2 separate regions of the Homo sapiens genome follow, and region 1 is linked to region 2. Evidence: fine-mapped expression QTL. A gene starts in region 2. The other region holds a variant in brackets. All regions are shown on one strand. Distances are from middle to middle.

The links.
Region 1: its variant is fine-mapped to the expression of LINC02325 in whole blood (INTERVAL, PIP above 0.99).

The regions. Positions count from the first base shown.
Region 1 is chr14:97,501,607-97,517,957 of GRCh38, forward strand. It overlaps LINC02325 (long intergenic non-protein coding RNA 2325), which reads left to right. Exons shown (of 5, transcript NR_110166.1): 2 at 8,649-8,759. Among named protein-coding and RNA genes, the nearest start is that of LINC02325, 51 kb to the left of the region's middle. The variant G/A (reference allele first, on the strand shown) is at 7,009.
Region 2 is chr14:97,449,846-97,466,196 of GRCh38, forward strand. LINC02325 (long intergenic non-protein coding RNA 2325) reads left to right here and starts at 8,971. Exons shown (of 5, transcript NR_110166.1): 1 at 8,971-9,082.

The sequences.
Region 1 (16,351 bases), 52 kb after region 2:
TTTTATGTCATGCAGCAATGCCCTCATAAATAAGATTAGTGCCTTTATAAAAGAGCCCCTAGAGACCTGCCTTGCCCCTTCAACCACATGAGTGCTTCATGAGAAATCATCATCTATGATCCAGGAAATGGCCCCTCATTAGACACCAAATCCGTTGTCACCTTGATCTTGGGCTTCCAAGCCCCTAGAGCTGTGAGAAATAAATTTTTGTTGCTTATAAGCTATTGTTTATGGCATTTTGTTAAAGAAAGCCAAATAGAGTAAGACAAAAACTGGTACTGAGAAATGGGTAAGCTGCTGTAACCAATACCTAAAAATAGATAATTGCCTTTGGAATTAAAAGAGTTGTGAAGTGCCTACTAAAAAAAGCCTACATTCTTAAGAACAGACTATTAAGGATGATCCTGGTGAGTGCTCAAAAGGAGAAGAGAAGAGCTTTAGAGAAAGCCTCAAGCTTCTTAGAGAATACCTAAGTGGTGGTTAACAGAATGGTGGTAGAAACATAGATGGTACAGATCGTTCTGATTAGGTCTCAGACCAAAAGGAGGAAAACATTATTGGACAATAGAGAAAATCATCCTTGTGAAAAAGTGGCAAAGAAATTGGCTGTATTATATTTGCATCTTAGTGTTTTGTGGAAGATAGAATTTGTGAACAATAAATTTGGAAATTTGGCAAAAGAAATTTCTAAGCAAAATGTTGAAGGTGTGACATGGCTTCTCTTGACTGCTTATCCTAAGATGTGAGAAGGTAGAAACAACTTAAAAATAACATTTTTAATCAAAAGAGAAGTACAACTTAAAGGTTTGAAAAATTATCAGTCTGTCCCCATTGTAAAATTAAGAAAGCATGCTCTGGAGAGGACACCAAGGATGTGTCCAGGTGACCATTTGATAAGAAGATTAGTATGAATCAGCTAGGTGCTATTCATTAAGAAAATGGAAAAATGACATGAAGGCATTTTGTCGATTATTGTTGCTGCTTTTACTAACACAAGCCTAAAGTGCAAAGGCCTTAGAGGCAATTCGATTTAAGAGGAAGAGCCAAGGATGCCTGCAGGACATCAGCTTCCCAGGGCCACCTAAATACTTTGCTTCCTGCATTTTGGTGTAGTGCTCCTTGGATGACCCAGGTGTGGATCCAGTCAGCCCAGGTGTGGTACAGGCCACTGTGGCTGCCTCACCCGAGGGTACAGGCAGTAAACCTTGGAGGCAAACCTTGGCAATGTCCATGTTTTGCCATATTCATCAGTGTATAGAGTGCATGAGCTGCAGGGGTACGGCTACCTCCACTTAAATTTTAAAGAATGAAGCTGCCTAGAGCCTGGGGCACATGACCCAGGCATAGGACCATTGCAGAGACAGAGTCACTAAAGGGTCCCCACCAGGGCAGTGCCTAATAGAGATCTGGGGTGTAGCTGTCCCAGGACTCTAGACCAGTGGAGCTACTTGTCTGTGATTCTAGACTGTGGGAGCCACAAGCATGTGACTTCAACACATGAGAACTGCAGCATGGGCTATACTCAGCAAAACTGTTGGGGTGAGGTACACTAAAGCCATGGGAGCAGGACCACCAGGAGTGTTGGGGACCCAACCCCTGCCTTAATGTTCCTGGAAGGTGGGAACTCTGACCAGCGGGCCTGAAGGGCAGAGCGTTGAGTCAAAGAAGATTATTCTGGAGGCTTAAGATTTAATGCTGTTTGCCCTGTTGGGTTTTGAAATCTTTGTGGAAACTGTAGTCCCTTTCTTCTTTCCTGTTTCTCTGTTTTGGAATGGAAATGTCTATCTTATTCCTGTTCCACTATTGGAGTTTGGAAGCACATAACTTATTTGATTTCACAGGTTCACAGCTGGAGAGCAATTTGCCTCAGGATAAATTCTACCTTGAGTCTCATCCATATCTAATTTAGATAATATTTAGATGAGACGCTGGAATTAGGCTTTACAGTTGATACTGGAATGAGTTAAAAATTTTGAGGCCATTGGGAGGGAATAATGTATTTTGCCTATGAGAAGGACATAAATTTGAGTGGGGGGCTGGGGCAGAATGCTATGATCTGAATACTTGTGTTCCCCCAAAATTTATATGTTGCAATTCTACCCCAAAGTGGGACCTTTATGGAGATGATTTAAATATAGGCCTCTGTTTCACTAAAACGTATGTCAGTATGATTAAAAAAATGCTATGTATCTCATAGAATGTGATTCTGCCCTCATGAACGAAATTTGTGTCCTTATAAATATGCCCAAGGGACCTGGTTTATCCCTTTCACCATGTGAGGACAGAGCAAGAAGGTGGCCACTGCAACTCAGGAAAGGCAGTCTCATCAGACCTTGAATCTGCAGGTGCCTTGATCTTGGACTTCTCAACCTCCCGAACCATAAGAAATTAATTTCTGTAGTTTATAAGCTCCCCAGTTTATGATATTTTGTTATAGTAGCCCAAATGGACTAAAACATTACCTCTTCTGTATTCTCTAGTTGTCTTAAAAAATTCATTTTACCATTGATCTCAGTCTCTGTTCTAGCAGTTCTTATTGAATATGAGACAAGAATTTTTGTATTGAGATTCAGCATGTCATATTTATTAAACTTATGAACCATGGAGGTGAACTGCTCTGAGCATAAGTTCCCTCTTCAGAATTTATGACATGTGCAACTCTGAGAACATTGTTTAAACTCTCTAAGCCTCAGTTTACTCACATGTAAAATGAAAGCTCATAAGAATAAATACCAACTTCACATGCTTTTGTCCCTTAAAGAGATGGTATGTGGACATTGTTTAGTTGATATTCACTATCATTAAGACATAGCTGCCTGTTATAGTAGATTATGAAACCCTGGAGATCAAGGGATTTGTATTAGTCTAGCATAGTGTCTGGCACATAGTAGGTATCCAATAATATGTATAAAATTGAATTACAAATCTTTCTCAGGTTTAAATATTAGGTTGGTGCAAAAATCATTATAACTAGGCTCAAATACATCTTTATTAATCAAAGTAAGAACCTTACAATCAACACATTTTTGCCAATGAGAAATAAGTTTGTTTACTCCTGTAGGGTAAAAATCTGAGCTTCAGGATTCAATGAACTCTTGGAAAGCATTTTCTGCATCCTGCTGGTTGTGGAAATGTTTTCCCTGCAAAAAGTTTTCAAGATATTCGAAGTAGTGGTAGTCAGTTGCTGGGAGGCCAGGTGAACATGGCAGATGAGGCAAAATTTTGTAGCCCAATTTGTTCAACTTTTGAAACTTTGTGCAATGTGCCATTGGGTGTTGTCGTGGAGAAGAATTGGGTCCTTTCTGTTGACCAAAGCTGGCTGCAGGCATTGCAGTTTTTGATGCATCTCATCAATTTGCTGAGCATACTTCTCAGATGTAATGGTTTTGCTGGGATTCAGAAAACTGCAGTGGATCAGACCAGCAGCAGACCACCAAATAGTGACCATGACCTGTTTTTGGTGCAAGTTTGGCTTTGAGAAGTGCTTTGGAGCTTCTTCTCAGTCCAACCACTGAGCTGGTCATTGCTGGTTGTCATATAAAATCCACTTTTTGTCATATGTCAATCTGATCCAGAAATTGTTCGTTGTTGCATAGAAAAAGAGAAGATGACACTTCAAAACAATGACTTTCTTTTTAAATTTTTGCTCAGCTTATGAGGCATCCTCTTATCAAGCTTTTTGCCTTTCCAATTTGCTTCAAATTACAAACGACTGTAGAATGGTCGATGTGGAGTTATTTGGCCACTTCTCACGTAGTTGTAACAAGAGGATCAGCTTTGATGATTGCTCTCAATTGGTGGTTGTCAACTTCTGATGGCCGATTGCTACATTCCTCATCTTCAAGGCTCTCTTCTCCTTTGCAAAACTTCTTGAACCACCACTGCAGTGTAAGTTCGTTAGCAGCTCCTGGGCCAAATGTGTTGTTGATGTTGCGAGTTGTCTCTGATGCTTTACAATCCATTTTGAACTTGAATAAGAAAATTGGCCAGGCATAGTGGCTCATGCCTGTAATCCCAGCACTTTGGGAGGCTGAGGTGGGCAGATCACTTGAGGCCAGAAGTTCGAGACTAGCCTGGCCAACATGGTGAAACCTCGTCTCTACTAAAAATACAAAAATTAGCCGGGCATGGGGGTGCACACCTGTAATCCCAGTTACTCGGGAGGCTGAGGTAGGAGAATCACTTGGACCCGGGAAGCAGAGGTTGCCGAAATCACACCACTGCACTCCAGCCTGGGTGACAGAGCCAGACTCAGTATCAAAAAAAAAAAAAAACAAAAAAAACTTGAATTTGCTTTTTGTCTAACATTATTCCCATAGTCTAAAATAAATATAAAATAAGGAGCAAGTAATACGTCATTAGTGAAAAAACATGAAGTGAGAAATGTCCATTAAAATGATGTATAGCATAACTACATTCATGTAAGAGTGTATTCCAATATCTAATGGCAAATTTCAACAATGCAAAAACCACAACTACTTTTGCACAATATGACCCTGTTTCGCTAACATGTTTGTAACTGGAAGGAAAATGCTACCTACCTCACAGAACCACTCTGAGAATGGATGAAATAAGGTGTATTGTGGAAACAAATCAGCGATGGCCCCCAAGCCCCCAGCCCTCTGGTGCACATTTTCTGGCTAGCTCCTCCTTTCAATTAAATTACATTTTATGGAAAAAGGAGCTTTACAGATGACACTGATATCCCTCATCACTTGTATTAAATTAATCAAGAGGGATATTATCATGGGTGGGGCTGACCTGACCAGGGGAGCCCTTGAAAGAGACAGGAAGCAGCGGCAGACACTCTCCTGTTGGTCTTGAAGAAAACAGTCACATTGTGAACTGGCCATGAAGGGGGCCTTTTGGCAGGGATCTGGGAGTGGCCTCTATGAGCTGAGTGGTTCTTTGCTGGCAGCAAGCAAGAAAACAAACAAGGACCTCAATCCTTTAGATGCAAGATACTGAATTCTACCAATAACCATGTGAACCTGGGAGAAAATCCAGCCTCAACTGAGACTTTGGCCAGCAGACTGTATTAAAATGTACCCACAGGATTTTGATTTTGGGAGGTAATTAAATGATGACATGGAGAGCCTGATGCCATTGAAAGAAGAATTTACTACTTACATTTCCCAAGAGAAGGAGGCTTGCCACACCACAAGCCAAGTGGGGAAGCACCAGATTTGGTCAGGAAGCAGAAGGAGGAGCGAGGCAAAAGCTTAGACCACAGCCTCTGTTAGGACAGTGGTAGATAGTTGTTAGATGGCAATGTCCCCTATTGGGCAGAACTCAAAACACAGATGCTGTGGTTTATGTTGAGAGGGTTGTAATACTATTTTCATTCATCTGCAAAAACTGGATCACGGGGAAGATGTAAGTAACTTTGCCCATTAATTTGATTTTATGATTTTAATGGATGCTGATACGGTTTGACTGTGTCCCCACCCAAATCTCAATTTAAATTGTATCTCCCAGAATTTTCATGTGTTGTGGGAGGGACCCAGGGGGATGTAATTGAATGATGAGGGCTGATCTTTCCTGTGCTATTCTTGTGATAGTGAATAAGTCTCATGAGATCCAATGGGTTCATCAGGGGTTTCCACTTTTGCTTCTCTCTCATTTTCTCTTGCCACTGCCATGTAAGAAGGGCCTTTCACCTCTCACCATGATTCTGAGGCCTTCCCAGCCATGTGGAACCTCTTTTTCTTCCTAGTCTCAGGTATGTCTTTATCAACTGCCTGAAAATGAACTAATACAGTAAATTGGTACCAGTAAAGTGGGGCACTGCTGAAAAGATACTCAAAAATGTGGAAGTTACTTCGGAACTGGGTAGCAGGCAGAGGTTGGAACAGTTTGGAGGGCTCAAAAGAAGACAGGAAAATGTGGAAAAGTTTAGAACCTCCTAGAGACTTGTTGAATGGCTTTCACAAAAATACTAATAGTGATATGAACAATAAGGTCCAGGCTGAGGTGGTCTCAGATGGAGATGAGGAACTTGTCGAGAACTGGAGCAAAGGTGACTCTTGTCATGTTTTAGCAAAGAGACTGGCAGCATTTTTCCCCTGCCCTAGAGATTTGAACTTGAGAGAGGTAACTTAGGGTATCTGGTGGAAGAAATTTCTAAGCAGCAAAGCATTCCAAAGGTGACGTGGGTGCTATTAAAAGCATTCTGTTTTAAAAGGGAAACAGAGCATAAAAGTTCAGAAAATTTGCAGGCTGACGATGCAGTAGAAAACAAAAACTCATTTTTTGAGGAGAAATTCAAGCCAGCTGAAGAAATTTGCATAAGTAGCAAGGAGCCTAATGTTAATCCCCAAGACAATGGGGAAAATATCTCCAGGCCGTGTCAGAGAACTTCATGGCAGTCCCTTCCATCACAGGCCCAGAGGCCCAGGAGGAAAAAGTGGTTTTGTGGGTGAGGCCCAGGGTCCCCTTCCTATGTTCAGCCTAGGGACTTGGTCCCCTGTTGTAGCCACTTCAGCTGTGGCTGAAAGGGGCCAATGTAGAGCTTGGTCTGTAGCTTCAGAGGGTGGAAGCCCCGGGCTTTGGCAGCTTCCACATGGTGTTGAGCTTGCGTGTGCACAGAAGTCAAGAATGGAGGTTTTGGAACCTCTGCCTAGATTTCAGAAGATGCATGGAAACGCCTATATGCGCAGGCAAAAGTTTGCTGCAGAGGTGGGGCCCTTATGGAGAACCTCTGCTAGGGTAGTGCAAAAGGGAAATGTGGAGTCAGAGCCCCTACACAGAGTCCCTACTGGAGCACTGCCTAGTGGAGCTGTGAGAAGAGGGCCACCATCCTCCAGACCCCAGAATGGTGGATCCACTGACAGCTTGTACCATGCACTTGGAGTAACCGCAGACACTCAACACAAGCCTGTGAAAGCAGCCAGGAGGGATGCTGTACCCCGTAAAGCCACAGGGGTGGAGCTGCCCAAGACCATGGAAACTCACCTTTTGCATCAGCATGACCTAGACGTGAGACCTGGAATAAAGGAGATCATTTTG[G/A]AACTTTAACATTTAACTGCCCTGCTAAATTTTGGATTTGCATGGGCCCTGTAACCCCTTTGTTTTGGCCAATGTCTTCCATTTGGAATGGCTATATTTACCCAATACCTGTACCCTCATTGTATCTAGGAAGTAACTAGCTTGCTTTTGATTTTACAGGCTCATAGGCAGAAGGGACTTGCCTTATCTCAGATGAGACTTTGGACTGTGGACTTTTGCTGAAATGAGTTAAGACTTTGAGGAATTTTTGGGAAGGCATGAGTGGTTTTTAAACGCAAGAACATGAGATTTGGAGGAGCCGGGGGTGGAATGATATGGTTTGGCTGTGTCCCCACCCAAATCTCAACTTGAATTTTATCTCTCAGAATTCCCACGTGTTGTGGGAGGGATCCAGGGGGAAGCAATTGAATCTTGAGGGCTGGTTTTTCCTGTGCTATTCTCATTATAGTGAATAAGTCTCATGAGATCTGATGGATTTATCAGGGGTTTCCACTTTTGCTTCTCTCTCATTTTCTCTTGCCGCCACCATGTAAGAAGTGCCTTTCACCTCCTGCTATGATTCTGGGGCCTCTCCAGCCATGCAGAACTCTAAGTCCAATTAAACTTCTTTTTCTTCCCAGTCTTGAGTATGTCTTTATCAGCTGTGTGAAAATGGACTAATATAGATGCCAAATAAACATACTATTTATGGCAACAGAAAACTGAAATCTTGATTTCAGCATATGCTATCCTGAGTGGAGAGCTTAGCTGCACTGTGCCTGGACCCCTGGCCTACTGAAGCTGTGAGATAATAAATAGGAATTGTAAGCCACTATGTTTGTGGCCATTTGTTACACAGCCATAGAAAACCAATACATGTACATAGAGCTGACCTATCCCCAGCATAGACTAAGTGTGCAATGAATGATCTTTTTTTTTTTTTTTTTTTTGCCTTCCTCTTCTTCCTCTGTCTTCTTTTTACAGAAAATGCAAAGCTTACTCTACAAACTCACATGGGGGTAGAATACAGCTATACATATTTTTTTCCTCCTAAGACTAATTTCTCTTTTGGGCAATTCAATTTCAGTCAATGTAGAGAGCCTCTCTTCCTTCCAGCCTCTGTTCTTTCTCAGGTTTGGATGTTCTCCTTGCATCTTACTTGATTCCATGGATGGGTTCTACCTCTTGTCCACTCAGTTTCAGGGGAATCTTTCTGTGGTCAGGCTGAGTGCAGAGAGTTGGTGAGGCTGACCAGGGCCCTCAATGAAGGCCTAGATATTCCACGAAGCCGTTTATTCTCTGGAGTTCCACATTTCCCTGGAGTTCCACATAGAAAACAGGCCCAACTTGTCTCTATTTTCAGATTCCATAAACCTAGGTGGGGGTTGGAGGCATAGTCCCTTTTCTTGTTTTTGTTTGTTTGATTGTTTTAACAAACATTTTATTCTGGAATAATTTTAGTTTTATAGAAAAGTTGCAAAGATAATATGGAGAATTCCCATATACCCTTTGCCAAGTATAACTTTCCCTTAATGTTACATTTCTCTAGTCTATTTTTCAGAAGTAAGACACTAACATTGGTAAATTACTATTACCAAAACTCTAGACTTTACTTGAATTTCATCAAGCTTTTCTTTAATGTCTTTTTGTTGTTGTTGCAGAATTCAATCCACGTTACTCCATTGCCATTTGTTACCACGTCCTTCAGTCTCCTCAATCTCTCAGTCCCCTTATTTTTCGTGACCTTGACAACTTTGAGGAGGACTCATCAGGTATGTTGTAGAATGCACCTCAGTCATGGTTTGTGTGAGATTTTCTCATGATTAGACTGGGCCTATGGATTTTTGGAGAGGAGACAACAAAACTTAAGTGCCCTTTTTATCCCATCAGAGCATGGGGCACATGGTATCTACATGGCATCACGGATGGTGCTGACCTTAATCACATTGTCAAGGTACTGTTTGCACTAAATAAAAAGCAGTGTCCACATCTTTATCTCTCCCTCGCATCATCCTTCCTTCCTTCTCCCCTTAGGCTGAGGTCAGGAGACAAAAGAGGGAGAGTTGTAACTTCTTCAACCCTTCATGCTTTTGTTTATTTCACTGTTTCCCTAAGGATCTGGGCTTTTGGAAGACAAAAGCCAGAGAAATACAAGCAGCATATTATATTCTGGCCTTGATGTTCTCTACCTCTGAGGCAATGAGCACAAGAAAAGTCTGGCTGTTCAAAGAGGGTTGGGGAAAGAATTTTCAGGAAAAAAAAAATTTTTAGTTTATATTTCAGAAATATTATTCTGCCACATTTTGCTTGAAGCTCAGCCCAGGGTTTCCACTGCAGCTGCAGTTTCAAATATACTGCCCCATTATCTCTAGAAGGTTTTTTTCACTTATTAGACATGCTACCCAAAGTTCTATTGTGCAACAGAGTTAAAGGGCCTGGAGCCCTTGCAAAATTTAGGACGTATGGAAAAAGCCAAGGTTACAGCTGACACCATCCTTAAATATTGGCTCAACAGACAACTTGCCTTGAGATACATGAAGAGGAGTTAACTGCACTTAAGTAAAAATTCAGAATTTGGGCAAAAACACATTCAGAAAGAACATGTTGGAGATATGGTTGTATGCAGACAAAATGATTCTAAAACACTTATTTCCCAAATTTCTTATTTGAGAGCCAGTTTGACTAATTTTGGGAAGAATCTATAGTGTGCACTAAGTTCCTTCCATTTTCCTACTGGCCTGATAGAACCTTCCTGATTCTTCGTTGACCCTGCAGCTCTAGCTACAGTGATTGGCTAAATGGTGGGCACCTGACTGGAGTTGGACTAATCATAGCTCCTCACATCCCTGGCCATCTGATTGGTTGCTTGTGAACACATGACTCAGACTGGGCCGATCCGAACCCCAGTTGAGCATGGGGCATGTAAGTAGGAGGAAGGGAGAGAGGGAAAGGACTCTGATCTCTAAACAGTGAGGATCTGAGCCCAGGAGTTGCTGGTAGCCATGGTTTCAACCTCATAGAAACAGATATTCTAAGGCCGTGAAGTTAATGTGTGGGGAGAATCAGGTAGAGATAATTCTGATGCCCTCCCCACCCTTATTATGCCTGTACCCATGGACACCCTACATTTGGATTATGAGCCACTGATCCTCCTTTCTGCCCAAGTGAGTCTGTGTTACTTTTCTCTTGCTTAAAAACAAAGTCAGTCTTGACTAAGAAAGAGTTATGTCTCACAATCAGGGCAGTGCAAGGCAGGGGAAGAAGAGAAAGCTCTAAATGCCCCACCTCAGAGAGTCTTGGGTTCAAATGTGATTCCCTGATGCTCCATTGATTATCTGTGCGATCTTGGGCAAGATACTCAACCTCTCTGGGCATTAGTTTCTTCATCTACACAGTGGGAAAATTAGGAGAATAAATAGTCTTCTGAATCTGTAGGATGTGGATTGGTAATTTTTTTCCTCTCCCTCATCACTATTCAGAAACATTGCCTTACATCCAGTTTATTAAGTCCATACTGCATAATTATTTTTGTTTGAAATTCTTCATTCCACCAACATACATTGGAGTTGCTCTATCATGGTGTCTTCTCCCCTGATGAAGGCATGTGTTCCAGGGGTGAGCAGGTGATGCAAGATAGGACAATCTATGTTCATTTCAGGGTTTTTCCTAGAGGAAAAGAGGGCTTTCCTTTTGGGACATGGAGCAGTTATCTCCCCTGATACGTGGAGGAAGTCTGTATCCAATAGGAGAGAAGGCGCTGAGCAGTGAGAAACAAAGGAAAGAAGGATGGCAAGATAAAATGAATTTGGTGACATGGAATATTGATGTGACTGAATCCACCTTAATGCTGAGCCAATAACATACTAAATCTATACATTTTTTTTTTCTAAAAGCTACTTCATATTGGGTTTCTGTTACTTGCACCTAAAGAAGTCCTAATAACAGCATATTTTATTCCTGCCTTGAACATATTTTCTGATGTGTCCAGAACAGTCTCATTTTATGTCTGTTATTCTGGTGTAGTTAATAATAATAACTAACTTAACTCCCAAAAGTACCCTGGTTTGGTTGATAAATTTCATATTACTTAACCCAATGTACTTGCCCCAAAACAAGTGTTCATGAGGGCAGGGAGAGCCACTTATTTGGAGAAAAGCAAAGGTGGAAGAAGATCAGGAGAACCAATAGGAATATTTTTATTGTGGGTTTTTCTATGTGTCTTTTATTTTTTATGGCTTCTTTCTGTGCATGGAACAAGGTGTTATTTTTTGTCTCCCAGTGGTGAAAATAATTCCAAACAAAAATGATAAATACCAGACTCAAATTGGAAGTGAAAGGATCCAGAAGATGGTACTTGCTGAGAGTAATGGAACAGGGATGGTGCCACAAGAGTTCTTGGGGAAGTTTTGAAGAAAGCAAAGATGTTTTGGGGACATATGCAGTCTGCAGTCCTCCACAGAGACTGGAGCCCAGCATTTTGAAAAGAATGCCAATTGGAAGAATTTGGAATAAAGAATTACTCAGAAATAGAAACTGTTTTGGCAGGGTTGAAATGTTATATCAGTACAGAATGATTTCAAATTAATGGGCAGAATTCAATTTTGTTCATATGCATGCTCCAGTTTGGGAAGGGAATCAAGTGGAAGGGATATATGGGGGCTTTGAGAGACATTGAGTTCTTAGACAGTTCTTCCTTCCCACAAGTTAGAATTTAGAGACGAGTGTGGCCAAACACTGTGGGTGTGGTAAAAGTATGTGTGAGTTCAGACAATGGCAGTGACTGGCAGGGATGCTCTTGACCAGGACTAGGTCTATTACTTGAGATAATATAAAGTCTGAATTATTTCCCAGCCCATGTCATAATATCGTGGGGCTTAGACCCTTCTAAGGCTGCTTACCTTGCCAGGGAAGTGCACTTCCCCCTTGTAAGTATGAGATGGCAATGAGAATCCTGTGTGTGTCTGTATTTATCTGTATCTATATCCAGGTCTATATTATCGGATAATATGCCTACACATTCAGACACACATAGAGCCCCCAGTTCTGTTCCCCAAGCACTTACTAAGGACCCACTCTGTGCTGGAGTCTCTGCTATGTTTTGGGGATATAGTGAGGGAAATGTCTTACAGTCTCCTTCATGTGTTTACTATTTATTAATGCCAAATAGAGAAATAAAAATGCTGTCACATTTACAGAGCCCTTTGGCATTTGTGAAACACATTCACATCAAACAGCGCTGTGAATACAGCAAGAGCCATTCCCCTTATTCTACAGATGGTGAAGTCAACTCAGAAAGACCAAGTGACAAGTTCAAGGTCACACAGCCAAGACTAATCCACAACTCTGCCTCCTACATCTTCTTAAGTCACGTTTAACTATCTCGTATTTCTGTTTGAAATATTTAATTCCAGTAAGTGGGGAATTCTGAGTGGATACCGTGAAGTAAACCCATTTTCAGGCTTTATACCACGAAAACACACATGGACAAAAAGGCAGCATAAATCTCCTTGACTTGTGATTTAATATTGGGACTCCAAGCCCCGGGGAATATTTTCATTTGATTTCTTGCTCCCTTATGCTATAAGAGAGTATTTTTAGAGGGTCAATAGCCTGGTTTAATCTATCATCTCCTTCCTTCCTTCCTTCCTTCCTTCCTTCCTTTTTTCCTTCCTTCCCTCCTTCCTTTTTTCCTTCCTCCCTTCCTCCCTCCCTTCCTTCCTTCCCTTCCTCCCTCTCTCCCTCCTTCCTTCCTTTTTTCCTTTGTTTCTCCTTCCACCTCTTCCTTCCTCCCTCTTGCCTGCCTGCCCTCCTTCATTCCTTCCTCCCTCCCTCCCTCCCTCCTTCCCTCCTTCCTTCCTTCCTTCCTCCTTTCCTTCCTTCCTTCATTTACTTGTTAACTCAACAAATACTTATGTCCATTCCTCTGTGACAGAAACTATACTAAGGGCCAATAATTCAGAGACAAATTAAATTCATTTGCTGCCCTTGAGGGGCTCACAGTCTTGTGGTGAGACAGAGCATCCACTTGGGAGACTGTGATCAACGTTCACCAAGGCTTGGACAGATAGTTAGGAGAATTGACCACATCCACTGACAGACCTCACAGAGGGAGCAGTGGGCATGGCCTTTGGGAGGAGACATTGGAAGGGCCCTCCCAGCCTGGGTAGATGTCCACACCAGCAGGCGAAGCTGCTGCAGAGTGCCCTCAAGGGAGTAATCCACTCCCAGGATGGAGGGGCAGGCCTGCCAGGAGGGCTTCAGGAAGAAGGAGTGCACGCCAGTGGCCTCTAGTCATGCAGGCCTGAACTGGCTGCTGAGATGTGCAGAATGATTCTTCCTGATCCAGTGGGCACTGGAACTTTCAGTGGGCAGGCGGGCTCTCCTGGAGAGGAGGCTGCCCTCCATCTGAAGTCCCTGCTCTGCTCTCCTCTGTCTCTCCCACGCGTCCCTTCAGGCCTTTCATGCACTACCCAAATGTCTTAGGTGGGCTGCACCTCCCTGGAATGGGCTCCGGCCTCCTCCCTTAGCCCTTGTATTAGTCAGCTCCAGCTGCCACAACAAAAGTACCACAGACTAGGGACTGAGGAAAGCATTTATTTTTCATCATTCTGGGCTGGAACTCTAAGGTCGAGGGGCTGGCCTAGTTGGTTTCTGGTGAGGGCCACTTCCTGGGTTTCAGTCTTCTTGCTGTGTTCTCATACAGGTGAAAGAGAGAGACCACCCTCCATCTCTGATGTCTCCTCTTATAAGGACACTAATCCTGTGGGACCAGGGCTCCACCCTCACAACCTCGTTTAATCTTAATTACTTCCTTACTGCACATACAGCCACACCAGGCCTCAAGGCCTCCACAGGAAAATGTTCAGGGGATCCACTTTAATTTTATTATTGTTATTATTATTATTTTTTGGGACAGGGACTCACTCTGTCACCCAGGCTGGAGTTCAGTGGTGCGATCTCAGCTCACTGCAACCTCCACCTCCTGGGTTCAAGCAATTATCGTGCCTCAGCCTCCCAAGTAGCTGGGACTACAAGTGCCTGCCACCACGCCCAGCTAATTTTTGTATTTTTTTGGTGGAGATGGGGTTTTACCACATTGGCCAGGCTGGTCTCAAACTCCTGACCTCAAGTGACCTCAAGTGATACACCTGCCTCAGCCTCCCAAAGTGCCAGAATTACAGGGATGAACCATGGCGCCCAGGGGATCCACTTTAGCCCCGAGGAGCAGCCATCTCCTCACAGCACCTGGCCCAAGCCCCTTCTCACTCCTGTCACTGCCCTTTCAGCCCCATACTCTCAGATTCAGGATTTGTGGATGGGGTCTGGTGCTGGCATTACACACACACACACACACACACACACACACACACACACACACACACACGCACAGTTGCTTGAGTGATTGTTTGATAAAACAATACACATACCTGGTACAAACTTCAAAACACATGAAAATGGGATGAACAGTAAAATGTGACTGGCTCCCCCTCACATCTCCCAGCCACCAGTTTCTTTGATACAGAGAAACTCACGGTTTCTTGTGTATCCTTCCAGAAGTGTCCTATCACTGTTCAGCCTTTCACCGAGTGGATATTTCAAGCTAGTGGCAGCACAGGGTCACACTGCTCTCCATCATGCCTTTGGTACGGATCCATCTGTCATCGAGAGCATCGCTATCTGTAAGAACAGAGCTGCCCCATTTTAATGTTCCATTCTAGGGCTATCCCAAAGGATATTTAACTAGAATACTTGTGATAGGCATGACTTTATTCCAAGTCTTGTGGAGGAAATGAATATGCAAACTCCTTTGGTAATTCTGTTGTCCACTGAAGTTCAAGAACCTCTTGCACAGTCGAATGCCAGCTCCTTCCTTTGTCTTCCTGAATTTCCCACAACCCTCCCCCTCCTCAGTTCCTACACCCAATGGCTGACTTCTACAGTCATCAAGCCCCATAGTAGCTGTGGCTTCTTCTGGCTCACTCTCCTCATCTTTGGAACAGGGGCAATGCACTGCCCACTGCTGATGAGGTTTGAAAGAACTAAATGGGTTAACATCAGCAGAGATCTCAGAACTTGGCCTTCACATAGTAAGAATTGGGCAGATGTAAGCCATTTCCCCCACTGCTATTCTTACTCCCCAGAAATGTCCCACATCCAGGAGGCTGAAAAACTGGGTACTATTTCTCTCCACCTCTTGGAAATACTGAGATAATTACATTTCTCTTGGAAAATATCAGGTGATCTGCATTCACTGGGGAAATGGTGCGTAAACTGATCTCTCTTGCCTTTGCTATGAAAGTCATTTGCAGGTAAGAACCCCAGGATTTGGAAGCAGAATTTCTGTATTGACACAACTATTGGAATTCCTTCTCCAAGATTCAGGTGGGATGGGATTCAGGAAGCAAAGCTGCCACTGCAGCTTCCTCCTTCCATAGTCCAGGTGACAGAAGCGACAGCTTTCTTCTTCCCAAAGGGGAGGAATCGCAGAGATGCCAACTCTGCCGCTATGTAGGCTTCCCTGAGCCCCAGACTCCTGAGTTTCCGGAGAGGGAGCTGCGAAATTCTGGGATCCTATTCAGAGCACTTGTGATGTGCTCAGAGATGATATTAAATGTTTTATATCATTTTGGCCATGATACAGACACATTTGCCTCTGATTCTGAAGAAGCTCAGCATTTCATTAAGTCATTCCTCACTTGATGCACCCTCCTTCCCCAACCCTCTTCTTTACAAATTAAGAAAGAAGCCAAATTTTTTTATTTCTGCAACACTGTAGGTGTGTGTCCTCCATCACTATTTCTTAACAATGTGTGCATTGAACATATAGGTGTTCTCAAGGAAATCAAATATTATACATTTTATACTTTAAAAATAAGACTCTTCTAAAACACATGGGATGCTTTGGCCAGTCTACAAATTGTAAGGCATAAACGTTAAGCCCAGGTACCCAGATGTTATAAAATACCCATTTGATGTAGCTTTTATTTGCCATCAAAGGCTGCTATCTCACAATGCAGAAGCAAATCCTGTGGCAAACTTTGCTTTGCTTCAATCAGATAAACAGAAAATCCTGTAAAACTGCATTTATCTAGCCTACCCCCAGCCTTCCATTCTGGGGAGAGGGCTTATTGCCTTGAGACTTTCTGTCTTCTGGAAACACCCACATGGCCAGTCAGCTCATGGGGTAGGAAAGGATGTCTCTTTGCAGAGTCCCAACTTCCATTCCCTCTCCCACACAGCATGATGCGGGCACTCAGGCGGGCAGACAGTGACTAATCGGTGGTTATTTAGAACAAGGGCCACCAGCCCATCTGCTGGGTGATTAGGATTCTAAAGTGAGTGGGCACTAATTCTCCCCTCAGGG
Region 2 (16,351 bases):
ATCAAGACTCAGACAGATTTGGTGTCTTGAAGAGCTCTCTTCCTGGTTCACAGAAGGCCACCTCACTGTAACCTTACATGGTAGAAAGGTGAGAGATCTCTCTAGTATCTCTTTTAAAAGGACACGAATCTCATTCATGACGGTGGAGTCTTCAGGGCCCAGTCACTTTCTAAGGGCCCAACTTCCTAATACCATCACTTTGAGAGTGAGGATATCAACATGTGAATTTTGCAAGGGCATAAACATTCAGATCATAGCAGGTTATACCACGTGTTTTACATTTAGGGAGTCTTTTTACTGGCCCAGAATTTATTTCAGTATTCATCCACGTTTTCCACAAGTCCTACTATTTATTTATTTTAACTTTAATTTAAATATCACCTACCTTAGGTAGAAGTTTTCCTTTGTGTAATATAATATAAAACCGACATTTCTTGGGGGCATAATAGTAAAGATGTTAACATTTTTTGGTTCTTTTTGGATGCTGTATTTGTGCTTCTTCTGAAAGTGATGTGTGCCAAGATGGCTCATGTAACCCAGTTTTGACTAGGCTATTGATATTCTGTCTGGTTAATTTATTGAACTGGCTTAAAGCTATACATATTTTCTTTTAGTTAACTATGTAAGATATTCTAGATATATTGTCTACTGATTCATAATATCACTGGTAATGGATGATTAATGAGTACTCTTCTTCTTTGTATAACTTGAATTTATTTTTTCCTGTCTTATAAAATATCTGGAATGTACAAAACAATGCCAAGGATGAATGGTTGGGGCTGGAGCCCTTGTCCTTGTCCTAACTTGAATGGGAATGTATCTGGAATACAAGCATTGCATATTATACAGACTTTTGTTTAAACGCTTCAAAATATATATATTTTAAGAAATGGATGTTGAATTTATAAAATTTATTTTGGCTTCTACGAAGATGGAATCATTTATATAGTTTATTTCAACGTTGACATCTTAATGTGATGTGATGAATTAATCGATTGCTAATATTACGCCTTCCTTATATTCTTAATAAAATACCTGGGATTCTCTTAATGTGTATGTGAATTCAGTTAGCTAGTATTTGATTTAGGATAATGCCTGTGTTCTCATGAGTAATTTAGATACCTGGTTTTCTTTTTTGTCCCATCCATTGCTAGCTTTTGATATGGGTGTAAAGTGTCTTTATAATATGAATGAAAGATTTTTACATTATTATGTGTGCTCTGGATTAAATCATAAGTAATAATAATTGTCTATTATTCGAAGTTATATAGAACTAGCAAAATTACTTGGCCTAGGAGTCTTTTGGGGATATAATTATGTTAAAGATTTTTTTCCATATTTTCCCCATGGCTATAGGTTTACAAAAGTTTTCTAATTCTTCTTGGACAAATTTTTATTATTTCAACTTTCCGGAATTTTCCAATTCTGGAACCAAAGAACAGAATCTATGCAACAAAAAATTAAACAGTAAATAGAAAACTATCTATCTCATTAGATTTTCTTTACATATGTCTTTATGTAGGACTGCACATCTGTATTTCTAATTTATAAACTTATATTGTATCTAATTTCCCACATCCAATATGCATATTTATTTGTGACATTATTAATTTGGATTTAATAGTGGTTTATTTGTTGTGTTGTACATTTCTAAATACCAGCTCTTACATTTATTTATTAACACTATTTTCTCAGTCTATAATTAATTTATATATGATTTAACTGCATTTATTTTTTAGTTTCCCTTGTCATTAGATTTATTTTGCTCTTCTTGAGATGGTTTGTTTGTAAGCTATATATTTTTTTAATGTGATATTTTAATTTTTCAATTGTAGTTTTTCTTACTGTACTTACTGAACCGATTTGGACTTAATTCTTATGTTTAGTATTTAGTAGTTGTGATCTACACTTATTACTATTTGTCCTGAACCATGCTTTCTCTCTTCTTGAATTGTTTATTTTGATTAATTACTGAGTCATTTCAAGTATATCTGCAATCCCATTTTTTAACATGAGTATAGTGGTAGTATACTTTTTTTTATTTTTGCATAGCTGAGTGTCTTTCTTTTTCCTTTACAAATCATCCCTTTGGTGTAAAATTATTGAGTAATTTTCTTCTCAAAACTCGTTAGACTGTATTTCACTTTACTCTTGATATGAACAATTTTGAAGTCTGAGATTACCCACATTTTTTTCTTTTGTAAATAATCTGTTCATCCTACTGCCATTCTCACAATTTTTAAAAATAGTTTTTCCCCAGAGATTCAAAATTCTTTTCAGACAGGAGTTTCTTTAGAAAATGGTTGTTTGGAATAATTTGAGCCCTTCTGAGGAACGAACTCAGATATTTTCAGCTCTGAATTCTTCTCGATATATTTGATTAACCAGTTACTCTGTTGGCCCTGGTCATGTCCTCTGAAATGTCAGCTCTCTTCACACACTGCCTCTTTACTGTGTCTTCCATATCTTCATCTTCTCTCACATAAGTTGTATCTCTGTGTCTTCTTTCTCTAAATTAAGCATCAGGAAACATTTTCTGTGAAAGGTTAAATAAAAAATATTTTCAGCTTTCTGGGGCATAAGTCTCTGGTGCAATTACTCAGCTCAGCCTTTGAAATACAAAAGCAACACATAAACAAATGAGTATAGCTGTGTTCCAATAAAACTTTATTTACAAAAACCAGTGGTGGGACAGATTAAGCTTATAGACTGTAGTTTTCTGATTTTGCTCTAAATACCTGGAAGCCTTCTTGTTTGCTTTCTATTTACTGATTTAATTTTCTGCTGTATAGATTCTGTTCTTTGGTTCTCTAGACCAGTACCATGTGAAGATTGAGTGTGCAGGCTTAGGCTGCTTGAGCTTAAATCTCACCTGTTCCATTTAGTAGTTTTTTTGAGTTGGCCAAGATATTTAACTGCTCTGTGTGTCCCAGTCTCCTTATCAAAAAGCCAATGTGGAGACGTGTTTGAAGATTTGACTGAGCTAATAGATGTAAACTGCATAGAACAATGTCTGAGACTGTGTTAGCTCCCGGTAAGTATGAGCTATTATTGATTCTTTCATAATTTCTTTCAGATCCCTTCCTAAATTTCAGGCTTCATTTGAACCTGCTACGTTAAAAATAGTTTATTTCTTATTATGCCTCTTTTTTTATGTATTTTATTATATTTTAGAAAGAACACAAAGCAAATACCTCATAAAATGTTTTCCGTTTTTGACAACAAATCCCTTTCTCTGGTATGCTCTTCATCTATGTGTTTACAATGCTGGTTCCCATTTTTATACTTGCTTTGGGCATGGTTTGCTTTTATTTATGTTTATTATTATTTAAATAAGGATTGAGTTTCTCCTCACTATTATTTTTACTATTTTCAAAATAATCTTCTTGGATTTTAATCCAGAGGCCACATTGAAATGTAAAGTGTGTTGACAAATTTCAGGTATAATGCAGGTAAATGATCCTGTCAGACTCTGGCCTCAATTCAGTTTTCCTGGATAAAATTTTGCCCTGGGATTATTTGAGAAATCTATGACTCTTCTTATTTGAATTACATGCTGTCAAATTCATTGCTCCCAGTGCTTGTCTTGGAGTTTTCTTGAGTTTGTGCTTTCCTTATGTCTTAGTATGCAGAGTCCTCTTAGCTTTGATTCTTACTCCTCTTCATTATTTGGCAATGAGGAGTTTTAGCCTTCTAAATGGCTGCAGAAGAGGAAGGTATCAACGAGCAGACGTGAAACTGGGGGTAGTTCTGCAGGTTACAAAAGTACCCAAGGCCCGGTGCAGTGGCTCATGCCTGTAATCCCAGCACTTTAGGAGACTGAGGGGGGCGGATCCCTTGAGCACAGGAGTTTGAGACCATCCCGGGCAATGTGGCAAAACCCTACCTCTACAAAAAATACAAAAATTATCTGTGCATAGTGGCACCTGCCTGTAGTCCCAGCTACTTGGGAGGCTGAGGTGGGAAGGTGGGAGGATCACTTGAGCCTGATAGGTGGAGGTTGCAGTGAGCCAAGATGGTGCCACTCAACTCAAGCCTGGGTGACAGAGTGAGAACCTGTCTCCAAAATAAATAAATAAATAAATAAATAAAGGTACTCAAAAGGGTAGACATTATCACCAGGACTTATAATCAGTGGTTCAGCCACCAAGGTGCTAAAGGGATCTGCAGATTGCATAGCTGGAAATTTTCTCCTGTCTTCTTCTGCTAGTCAAGTTGTTTTTCTTCAGAATTCACCCATGAGTCACTGACAATCTTTTCTTGGTCACCTCTAAAATAGAGAGCGGGCACTTTATCTTTGAGATGGCTTTGTTTCCAGTGGCCATAATTGCTTTGGTATTTCGGTGTTTATGTGTGTTTCAACAGCACAGAGGGGCAAGCTAACTCAGGCAGAACTCCATGGCCTCCAGCAAATTCCCAGTATGTGATTCTTGGTAAGACAAAAATTGAATGGAAAGAACATGTGCTTTGGAATCAAGCACATTTAGCAGGTTATGAGGCTGATTCTGTCAGTTCACTGCATGACTTTGAGGAAATCATCCACCTCTTTAAACTTGATTCATCTTCAGTATAAAAGTTGGGATCACAGTGTCTACACTCGTGCTGTTGTAAATATTTAATACAATATAATAGTAAAGGTCCAAGCAGAGATGCTCATTAAATATTGTCAGTATTGATCCTTTTGCCATATGCTGGTATCTACAGAGAGAGGAAACTTTTGTTTCTTTTTTTTTTTAAGTCTATAGAAGTTTGTTGTGTAGACAAAGATTATTTATAATATGAAAGACTCATTTGTCCATCTGTAAGCATTAATATGAGCAAAAATACATTAGACTAAACCCTATAGAGTTAGTGGTATTTGATATTTTTACCACTAGCAATGGTAATGCCATATGGTTCAAATAAACGTAAGCAATTCATATTTATCTGTGTGTTTCTAGAATTGTTTTATTGAATGAATAAAATGGCATAATTCACTTAAAAAATCCAGAGCATGTGGTTACGCTAAACCTTAGGTTGCCATATAAGTAGCATGTGTGAGAATTTCTTTGAATGTAATGAGACCTAGAATGAATGTGTAATTCCTCTGAAATGAAGCTTCAGGAATATTTTTGGGAGTCTGTGGCTGAATGGACAAAACATAGCCTGTGGTTGAATTCAGACTCCACTACATATGTGGATGAATGGCACTGGGCACGTTCCTTACCCTCACTGAGCCTCCGAGTCCTCATTCATTCAATAAATGCTGCCACTTAGGCCTGCTTTAGGGATTGAGAGAAAATATTTCAAGGTCTAGTTCAGTGTCTGATCTGTAGCAGGGGCTTAGTAAAGGGCTATGACGCTACAGCACATTTTCTTGGTCATTGTAATGGCAGAGACTTTGTAGAGAAAGAGGAGCAGGTATTTTGGTGTCTTTAGAAACCACCCATAAGGTGAGAAAAAAAAATTGGTTCCTGGCACAAGAGAATTGAAAGAGTTCTTTCTAGGCCTCCCAGTGATAGATGAGGCCACGGCATTGTGAAAACTGTCCACTCTAAAGGGTAGGGTTGAGGTGTGAGGTAGACAACTTGTAAGGTGATTTCCAAGATCTCTGCCTCCTGGTATTCACATCCTTGTGTGAGCACCTCTCTTGAACGTGGGCTGGACCTAGTGACCCACTTCTAGTTAACAGGATATGTGAAAAGGGAAGGGATATCATTTCTGAGATTAGTTTATAAAAGATATGACTTCTGTCCTGAGTGCAACCTGTCTCCTGTTGTTTCCTTGCTTGCTTACAAGGATGAATCCTCCTGTCCTGTTGGGACCTGCCCTATGGAGAGGGCCATAGGACAAGCAAATGGGGATGATTCCCAGCTGGTGAAGAACTGAGACCTTTAGTCCAGCAGTCCTTGTGGAGCTGATTCCTGCCAGCAACCACGTGAGTGTGCTCAGAAGCAGATTCTGTTCCCAGTTAAGCCTTAGATGCCTGCAGCCCTTGATAACACCTTGGCTACCTTCTGCGGGAGACCCTGAAACAGAAGACTCAGTTAAGCTGTGCCCAAATATTCCTGACCTATGAAGCTGTGGGGCAATACATACTAGTTGCTTTCATTCAGCCACTATGCTTAGGGAGAATTTATGTGGCAACAAATGACATGAGGTATGTGTGGAAACAGAAACAATCCTTTTGTGTTGCTGTGGAGGTACAAGGTACCTGCTGTAGAGGCAGTCAGGATACAGCGTGGCTCTGAGACCTTCTTTCCTGGCAAACAGCTGGTGGAAGTCGAGAAAAGGGATCTCGCTGGGGTGGATGTTCCTGCGGCCTGGACATCAAGATCTGTCATGTAACATAAATCAGAGAAGATCAATGCTGCAGTTGTAGGGAGCTTTGCAGCACCATTTCCACCATGATGGACCTCAAACTTCTCTTCTATGGGATACATGGTTAGAAAACCACAGCTATGGAGGAGGAAGAGGGCAATAGAACCGTTTCTTGGAAGTGATGCCTCTCAAAGCCTAATTCTCTCAAGTCAAGCTAAGTCCCCATTCCTTCTGGTTTGTCTCCACCTTTCTCCTCTGCAGAGCAGGCTGCACAGGCATGGTCCCCCCCACATGCAGACATACCTCATTCCTCAGGTCTGCCCTGTTACCAGTTTTGTCGTGCATCTCGTGCTAAACTTACTTCTCAAATGGAAAGCTGCCTCAAGGGCAGGGTGGCACGGTGGAGAGGGCAGGGGCTCTGCATCTGACCTGTCTGACATCTGATCTTGGCCCTACTGGTTACTTGCTGGGCAGTCTTGGCGAATTTGTTTAATCTTTTTGAACTCTGGACTCATCAGCAAGAAAAAGGGAATGATAATATGTACTTTACAGGGCGGTTCTGAAAATTAAGCCAGACAAAGTGCTTGGGACGAGAGCCTGGGACGTTCTGACAGCAGTGTGGTTGTGGCTCGTGTCTGTGTTATTTTTCTGATTGTCTCCATGCAGGGTCACAGTAGGATTCACATGGGGTCACTTAGGCTCTGCCCTGGCCGGCAAACACTGCACTCATAGGTCCCCTCCTCAGAGCTCTCCAGCCCCAGGACAGATTGGGGGTGATATCAGGCAGGAGGACTGTGCTGGGATGTGACCCACTGGGAGGCCTCCATGTGGGACAGAGCCAGAGGCAGCACCTGGGCCGTGACACCAGTGCCTGGGGACGTGGTTTGCCTGGGAGCCAGGTGGAGCTGATCCTCCTTCTGGTGGGTGCTCTGTGCCTGAGGCATAGCTGGGCTGCAGGGGGTGGAGGACTCCTCATTCTGTCACTGCCACTCACAGGGCCTGGAGAGCTGTGTCTGTTTCTGGAACCTCTGAATCACAGCCTCCTTGGGTTCTTCTGAAGGCACATTGCACCTTCTAGAAGGGTATGACTCAGAAGGAAAGAGAGAAAAACCTCTACTGGCAAGAGGAAATGGCTGCAGTGTTTACTTTATCTGAAAATGGCACACGCTTTTATTAAGACATAAATGCCAGTGATGGATTCTGCTCTTGGCGTGTGGCTGTGCTCCCCAGCCCTGAGGTGAGATGGTCAGGAGATGTGAGACCCTACAGAGAAAATATTTACCATGCTGAGCTGTCATGAGACAGAGTAAGTGGGCAGAGGGCAGCTGGTTCCTTTGACCACCTCATTCTAGGGAAAATAAACAGGGACCCTGGAGCAGTCACTAACAGAGGGGAGCAAGTATCCTCTCTCTGCAGTAGAATCTCTGAAAATTCGGATAACGTTAATTGTGCCACTGTGGTGGCAGTGCAAGAAATTCCTGTTCATCCCGCTGCAATGATGATTAAGGTAACAAACACCCAGTCGGGAAGTCAGGCTCCGGCCCTGGAGAATAGTTGAGGATCGCCTGTAGCATATTGTTCCACTCTGCTGGCATCCTAACTAGACAGCTTTAGTTTTAGCATAAAATCCATATTCCAGACCTTTATGGAGCAGAGAGGCAAACTCCAATGCTGCCGTTGCAAGCATCAAACAGCATTAGAATGAATTAAGGAGATTTAAGACTCTCGATGCTGTCGGGGCTCTTCTCCATCCCCTCTGTTTTCTCCAAGGAGCTGTTTTAAAGGCGTGGGGGGCAAATTGGAAGAAGGGAGTGGGAAAAACGCAAACCAATCACGCTAACCTCGCTCCGGAATCGAAGTCTGACTCTGTACCACGCATGGATTTAATTGGGAGAGAGGTCTTTTAGAGACACTCTGGGTGGGTGCATAGATCAGTCTGGAGTTTCACAGTACGGCTTCTTCCAAGGTCAGAGCATGTGTCCAGGGTCTTCCCCGCTTCCTGGTGGACGGGAAGGCGTCTTCGGTCCGGTGGTTGACAAAAAATCCAAAGAGGGCGTCAGATGTGTGCACTCTGGTGTTTGGAATTTAAGTAAAATCTGTAATTTTCCTCCTGCATTTCCTCAGAGAAATTAGCTATTCTATTCACTGCATAAATTTTCAGGTTTTGCTAGCACGACACTCAGGGTGTTGAATTTTTTATGACAAAAATGCTGTAATAATTGTTGAACAGATGTAAGTGTTGGAGACTCGGCTCTGGCAGACCTCACGAAACCTCGATTAGCAATTTAACCCTGTCCTCCCTCCTGTCCGCACGCCGGGGAAGAGGAGTTGCAGTTTTGAATGGCTTCACTGGGATATGCACAAAGGCAGAGAAAGAGTTTTCTGGAGAGCAGGGGAAGTCCTTTAACGAGCTCTTATGCCCAGCCAGAAAAGGAAGAACTCGGTGCAGCCTAACCCTGAAATTACCACATTACCAAGTTGTCTAGCTGGGTGATTAATAAACTAATTGACACGGGGGACACTTGTCACTGGCGAAGCAGCTCCCTAGCCAAAGCGAGGAGCAACTACATAGCGTCTCCCGGGGAGCTGGGAAGTGACAGTCTACACCCGCTTCCGGGCTCCCCGTGACATAGGCCAGCCGGGCCTCCATTTACACCTCAAAGCAAAGTCACAGAGGGATCCGCCCCTTTCCTGGCTGCCTACACAGAAAGCAGCCATGGGAGACTTGCCGAGGACTTTGTCCACCAAGTGATGAAAGCATGCAAATGCCTCCGAATCAAAGGTAAATCAAAAGAAAATGGCAGCCCGCAAGAGGAGGCGGCGGTGACAGCCCGTCAGCCGTACAGCCACCCGACAGGCCTGGTGGCAGCGTGGAGGCTGCCAAGAGAACCGCCTGAGGAGGCTGCCGCCAAGACAGATGTCACGGCGAGGAGGGCGCGCTTCCGTCGCTTTCGGCGGGGCCTCATGGAGCAGGAAGTGGTACTACATGTGCCACTTAAGAGAATAATAATACTAATAAAACTGGGCGTTGTGAAGGGGGAGAGGTGGGGGAGAAAGGCTGGTTAGAGAGAGAGAGAGAAGAGGGGAAAGGCATGTCACAGTGTTTGGTAAAGGAGGAACTGAATTGATGGCCATCCTGAAGTTTGTGTGTGTGCGCACATGTGCGTCCTTTAGCAGGCTGGCTTTCCCTAGGCGCTTACAGCATCTTGAGAGGCATTGTGCTGGTGGAGACGTGGGGTTCTGGTGACAGCTGTGTCTTTGCAAGAGAGGAGAGGTGACCACAAGGCCACAGAGGTCCTCTAGTTTTTATAGCCCTCTTTTCTGCCTTTCCTGGAAATTGACTTTTGGTTTCCTGCCAAGATTGGGTTGCCCATTATACAAAAAAGCAGACTCCTGCTTGGGGCATTGCAGAGTTGCAGAGATGGAGGGAGACAGAGGCAGGTGAGGAAAGCCTCAATGTCTGATTTTCTCTGTGTCTGCCTCTGTGTTATTTGCGGATGGGTCGTGAGCCCCAGCCCAGCAGCCCACGATATTCGGACCTTAAGTACTGAAAATAACCTACTCCCCTTTTCATGGGTATTTTAAATTAAAATTAATATATAACAGGCCAGGTTTAGTGGTTCACGCCTGTAGTTTTCAGCACTTTGGGAGGCTGAGACAGGAGGATCGCTTGAGCCCAGGAGTCTGAGACCCACATGAGCAACGTGACAAGACCCCATCTTTACAAAAATAAGAAATAAAAAAAATTAGCTAGGCATGTTGGCATGTGCCTGTGGCCCCAGCTACTTTGGAGGTTGAGGTGGGGAAGATCACTCGAACCTAGGAGGTTGAGGCTGCAGTGAGCAGTGATGGCACCACTGCACTCTAGCCTGAATGACAGGGCGAGACCCTGACTCAAAAGAAAAACGTGAGTGTGTATGTGTATAATAATAATTACATATATATATATAGCCATTACAGCAAGAATGTCCAACATAACAGCTCTTATGTGTTTTTTGTATGTCAAGTTTTTCTAAAAATTGCTGACTTTGAGGTGAGACTTCTGTTTTACCTGTGCTCTGAGCAGGTGTTTGGGCTGCATGTTGGGAAATCCAATCCCAGAAATTGTGTAAAAAATAAACTATGTTTTTTTAAATTCTAAGATGATTAACTTTTGTCTAGGAAGTGATTGCAGATAGGTTCTTAGCCATAAATGTATAAAATTGTCATAAACCACAACATATTGATTTGATCATAAGAAATTCACTTTTCTAAATGTCCCCCCTCCTCTAAAAAGCATTTGGGAGTAATGCAGTCAATATAACAAAGAGTCTAAAGATATAATGTCCAAGTGCCTTGGAGGTGAAAGACCTTACACTTTATCTTATTCTTACCATTCCTACCCCAGCTGCATTTTATAAGCAGGAGAGTTGCTGGCTTTATAGTGTAGGAACAGTTTTAGTGCCTCTACCATTATCCCATTTTTGCAAATACTTCCAGAGGAAGTAATTCTGAGATTGCTGAAAATTCTCATAGGTGTAACTATGTGATAAGTCCTTCAGGGCAGAGAGAAGATGGGTAGAATTAGCCCAGCCTGGTGAAGTGTGAACAGGATGCCCATGGGTGAGAATCTGTCCTGGGTCCAAATAAAGCCTACACAGTTGGATGTGTGACCCTTAGCATCTCCGAGGCTGAATGATAACCCTCCCTACAGCAGCATGGCCAGTGTTAAAATGTACAGAAAGCTCACATTGCAGCAGGTGATGTCGGAAGGGCTTCATCAATATGTGCTGTACTGAGCATCATAAAGCAATCAGGCGCTGGTAACTGAAATCCTGGGATGGGCTCTATTTATAATTTATTGTACACTTAGTTTAAGTGTAATTATATATATATATATATATATATATATATATATATATATGGTTTTTTGTTTGTTTGTTTGTTTGGTTTTTTTACAAAGTTTTGCTCTTGTCACACAGGCTGGAATTCAGTGGCATGATTTCTCCTCACTGTAACCTCTGCCTCACGGGTTCAAGCAATTCTCCTGCCTCAGCCTCCCGAGTAGCTGGGATTATAGGGACCTGCCACCATGCTCAGCTAATTTTTGTATTTTTAGTAGCGATGGGGTTTCACCATGTTGGCCAGGCTAGTATTGAACTCCTGACCTCAGGTGATCCACCCACTTTGGCCTTTCAAAGTGCTGGGATTATAGGCACGAGCCACTGTGCCCGGCCGATATATTTCAAAGTCTAAATAAAATGCAATGGGAGACTGACATTCACTTTTAATACCATTTCACTAAAAGTTACCATTTAAGGGGATCATCCCTGTGGTGGTTCAACCCAGATGTTCCAGATGTTTCTTCCTTTTTCATCCATGATCTGCTGGTTCTCTTCACAGTAGCACTTTTGTTTTATTTTTAATATACTGTACATTAGTCTATCACTGGATAAGCATTTTTTTCTTGCAGCAAGTTCCTTATTCCTAAGAGCAAAATGTCCTCAATCTTTAAGTCAGAATTTAAGCACTTTCCTCTTCAAATATCTGTAAAAAAGATTGTCTTCTTCCAATTCTCTCTGTTCAAATTCATGACGTTCACTTTTAGGTTACCATTATTTTATTTAATGTAGCTGAAACATTTCAATCTGATTCCATATTAATATTTCCCTTTTTCAGATGAGGAAAACAAAAGCTCAGAAACTATCTTGGAGTCAGCAAGTAAGAAGGAGCTTAGAAAGGCTTAACATTTTCCATGCTTCTGCCTGGCTTCAGAGCCCATGCACTCTGCCTTACCACGGCAGGTGAAAGATGGCCCCAAATTCTTAGGTACATCTCCTGCCAAAAGACCCCTCCTATGGGTTCTGTGACTACTTCAATGAAAAGAATAGGGCAGAAGAGATGATGAGAACTTAACATCTGGCAGTGTCCATTTCCTGTCTTTTGAAACTTTCTGTTAAAGGCCTGAGCCACGTATGAAGTGTGAATCTTCACACCATGCAAGAGAAGCCACATGTTATTGCTCTGGTCAACAATCCCAGCTGACCCAACCAGATAGTGTATCAGGCATATGAGTAAAGCATTCTTAGATTCTTCAGTCCAGCCCTTCACCAGCAGAACACCATTCAGCAACCCTTGTCGGCATCATGTGGGACAGAAGAACCACCCAGCTGAGCCTTATCCAAATTCCTGACCACAAAATCATAAGGTATGATTGCTGTTTTAAGCCAAAAGTTTTGAGATAGTTTGTTAAGCAGAAATAGCTATTGATCAATTATCATGTATAATTGATTATAATTACAAAATGCCAGGACCCTGTTGGAATTGTCTGCTTCATGCTTTACTTTGTCTGAGTAGCTTTTGAACATCTCTGCAAAATCACAACCACAGCTCTTTACATTGTATTGATCTATACCTAGACTCTTTATCCATATCCTTTGTTTTGCTGCCAACAATTCTTGAGTGGACTGGAAAGAATTCACTGTCTCTGGCTCTTTGGTTGCAAGAGTAACTTTCAGGCTTCTGGTTTTAACAACATGGCAGACTGAACCAATAAGCATCACCTTCTTCATACAAATACACAAAAATACTGGAGAAGTATAAATTTTAAAATGAACACATAAACTCAAAGAAAGGGAATGCTTAGGTACTCGAAATGAAAGTTCAGTTTGCTGATACCATACTGTCCTTCAGAGCTATTGATTATAGGCCTTTGGGTCTGAAATTTCTTGCCTACAGAAAGACAGGAGATGCGGCTTTGAATCTGTATATGGTGGGAACCAGAACTGAATCCCCAGCATGAGACATGCACATTTAAAAGACCTGATAGACTAAGAGAAGCAGCGAGAAAGCTTTCTTGTGGCTTGGTTTCTGGGTAGGAAAAAAATGCCTCTCATGAGAAATCAGTTACAAGCTCATACAATGCACGCAGGGAGGGTCCAAGTTTACATTGCCCTTGTGATGTAAGAATTGAAGTCAAAAACACTAGACACAGGTCTAGCGTCCCTGCAGAAAGAAATGCAAAATTTTATTTTTAGTAACACATTCACAAACTTGGGCCACATGGAATTCTGATAGGTTTAAAGACAGAGCAAAACTAAACCAAAGCTCTTTGGAAGACAAACTCAATAGAAAATCATGAAATTGCACTAGGAAAGAAGATACTGAATAGGGAGTTAGACACAGCAAGCTGAAGAATGGGCATCTCAAGAAATAGAACTAATAGAATACTTTGAAAGGGACGGCAACATAAGTATATTTATATATGTAGAAGGATTTAAGCAGAAGGGTTAGAAAAAATAGGACAAAAAGAATTAAAAAGTAGAAGATGAATTTTCAGGTTGATCCAAGGTAAAAAATAGATCCCTGTATTAAAAAGTCCCTGCATACCATTAGTACTTCTGAATACAATGATTGAAATCTTGTGATTGCTCCAGGCTGGAATTTTATTCTACAGTCCTGTAAGGTACAGATCATTGGGTAAATGGAGAAAATTTTCTCCCCAAAGAGAGAATGACTTCTTTCATATCGCTGAATGGAGCAACATGTTTGGCCAAGTTCCTGTCCCAGGGAGGAGAACCTTCAGCTTGCAACAAGTCCTGGCCGTTGGAGAAACCATGAGACTAGACCTTGTGTAAAGCAGCTGATTCTGCCATGGGGGAAATGCCCTTTTGTTTACTGAGCTTCTCCCACCCATGCCTTGCTCCACTTTCCTCTAGAAGCCTGAGATATTGGGAATAAGAGTCTCAGCCTCCAAGAGATGGAGAACATATCAAGAGAGTCTGGATTTCTGGGGTGATTAAGTTCACTTGATTCATTAGCCTAAGTGCTCAAGTAAATTTCAAATCACAGTGTTATGTGTGATTGTCCACGTCCTTCCTCCAAACACTCCCCACCTCCCACCCAAGGGCCCATGTAACTTGCTATTGAGAACCTTTGATTTCTTAGGTATTTGGGTGATAGGGTTTTGTTGCCTCTCCTGAAGAAAATAGTGGCAATTTGTACTCAGCTGTGGAATAAAGGAAATCATGACATATCTTCATAGTGGATTTCCTATTTGATGGTTCCAGCCTATTTTCAATATCCACAACCTGCTGCACCCTAGGAAAATTGACTTCCTCCACTGCCACCCCATTCCCCAACCCCAGAGCTAGAATCTAGGTGAAACAGTGAGGCAGGGAAGCCTTCAGGAGGGAATGGGGCAGGGTGGGGGCTTGTCTCAGGTCACCATTCTCAATGTTGGCTGCACACCAACTTTCAACATCCCAAAGCCCAGGCCTCACTCAGACCAATGAAATGAGAATCCCTGAGGGTAGAAAAGGGCTTGGGATGCAATAAAAAATACGGAGTAATACAGAATGTGGGTCATACTTACAGTAAAAGATTATTTGTTGTTTATCTGAAAATCAAATGTAACTGGGTCAACCTATATTTTTATTTGCTAAATCTGGCAACACCAACCCATGCAATACTGCTGTTCAAAGCTCCCCCAGAGATAGCAACATGCAGTCGGTGATTTTCAAACTTCAATGTGTTTAAGAATCACCCCAATTGATCATTAAATACCAATTCCTGGGCCTACCTCTAAGAATTCTCATTCTGTTCTTCTAGGGTGGGGCCCAGAATGATCAATTCTAACCAGTTCCTGGGTGTTTCTCGGGCTGCTGGGACTCCGTCCACACTGCAAGTAGCAGGAGTGTGTTCCAGCAGATCTGGGCATTGAACTCAAGTCTTCCAACTCCTCCATCCTTCCCACTATGCAGAGATTGCATGGATTTTTGTGTGGGTCCTTTGGCTATAGCGTGAATCTGTTTTCCTAGGTTCTCCTGTTGGTTCTCATCTCAGATCTCTTGCTTGAGGAGTTAGTTCCCGGGATCTAATTGTATCTTATTAGTAATAAGTTCAAGTCAGATGCTAAAGCTAAAAAACCCCCTCCCCACACCACCACCATGATTGATTCTATTTAGGATCTATTATTTGCTCTGGCTATGATAAGCTGTCTGGGGGAATAAAGGAAACCTACGGCACTATCTCCACTCTTAAAGGAATTTGTTGCGTCTAAGACAAGAAAATTACATTTAGAGAGAGAGAGAGAAAAGGCAATGTGTATTCTTCTTTCACATTGGGAGTTATTTCCTGAAGAAATTAAAGAGATTCGGCAAAAAGAGAGACATTGGAGTCCAGATCAGAAGGAAGAGGACTGGAAAGAGGAGGGAAGAGAACAATTCTCCCAGAACCTTCTAAAAAATTACTTTTGTTTCCAGCAGTTTTACCTTTGTTCAGCAACTTATCAACAGTGTGATCTTGGAAATGTCACCTTAACTCCATAGCCTCAGTTTCCTCTTACGTGAAATAGTCATGCTGACACTAACTTTATAAGTTGGTGAAGGATTAGAGGTAATGGTTCTAAAGTGGTGGTTACAGTACCTGATGCTTGCAAGTTCCCAAACTCAGCTGCCCATGTGAGCTGGGTGGGCAATGTTGGTGAGCAGGTACATGATCAGGCCCGCTCCAACCCTTGGTCATTGCCACTGTGTTAGAAAACAGCCCTGGAAGCCTCATATTCCAGTTTTCTGAGACAAAATGAATTGTATTTTTGTGGCATCTTCCAGTTTTTAGATGCGTGCTCATTAGTTTCAGAAGCGTTCATTGTCTATGGCTGCTTTAGTGCTTTACAGTAGCAGAAGTGAGTACTTGCAACAGAGACCATAAGGCTGCATAGCCTAAAGTGTTTACTCTCTGGCCCTTGGTGGAAGAAATTCGCCAACTCCTGGACTAAAGATGCAAAGCAGAACTTCTGGTGGAGGGAGTGGCCCCTCTGTTGATGGTTCCATCTGTTCCACTCACTGTTCTGTGCCTTCTCATCTCCTCCCTCCACTCTGTGTCTTCTTCTCCCTCCATGTCTTTCACTCAGTCATGGTTTCTGCTTCCTCATAGCTTCTGTTTGCAGAAGGCCTTCGGTGGACAGCCTCAAAGGTCTCACTACACCATGGACTTTCAGCTTCAGCTGTCACCATCACCATCATCTTTTTCCAGTTTAGACTCCAGAGATGAAGACTGTGTCTTGTCCAGT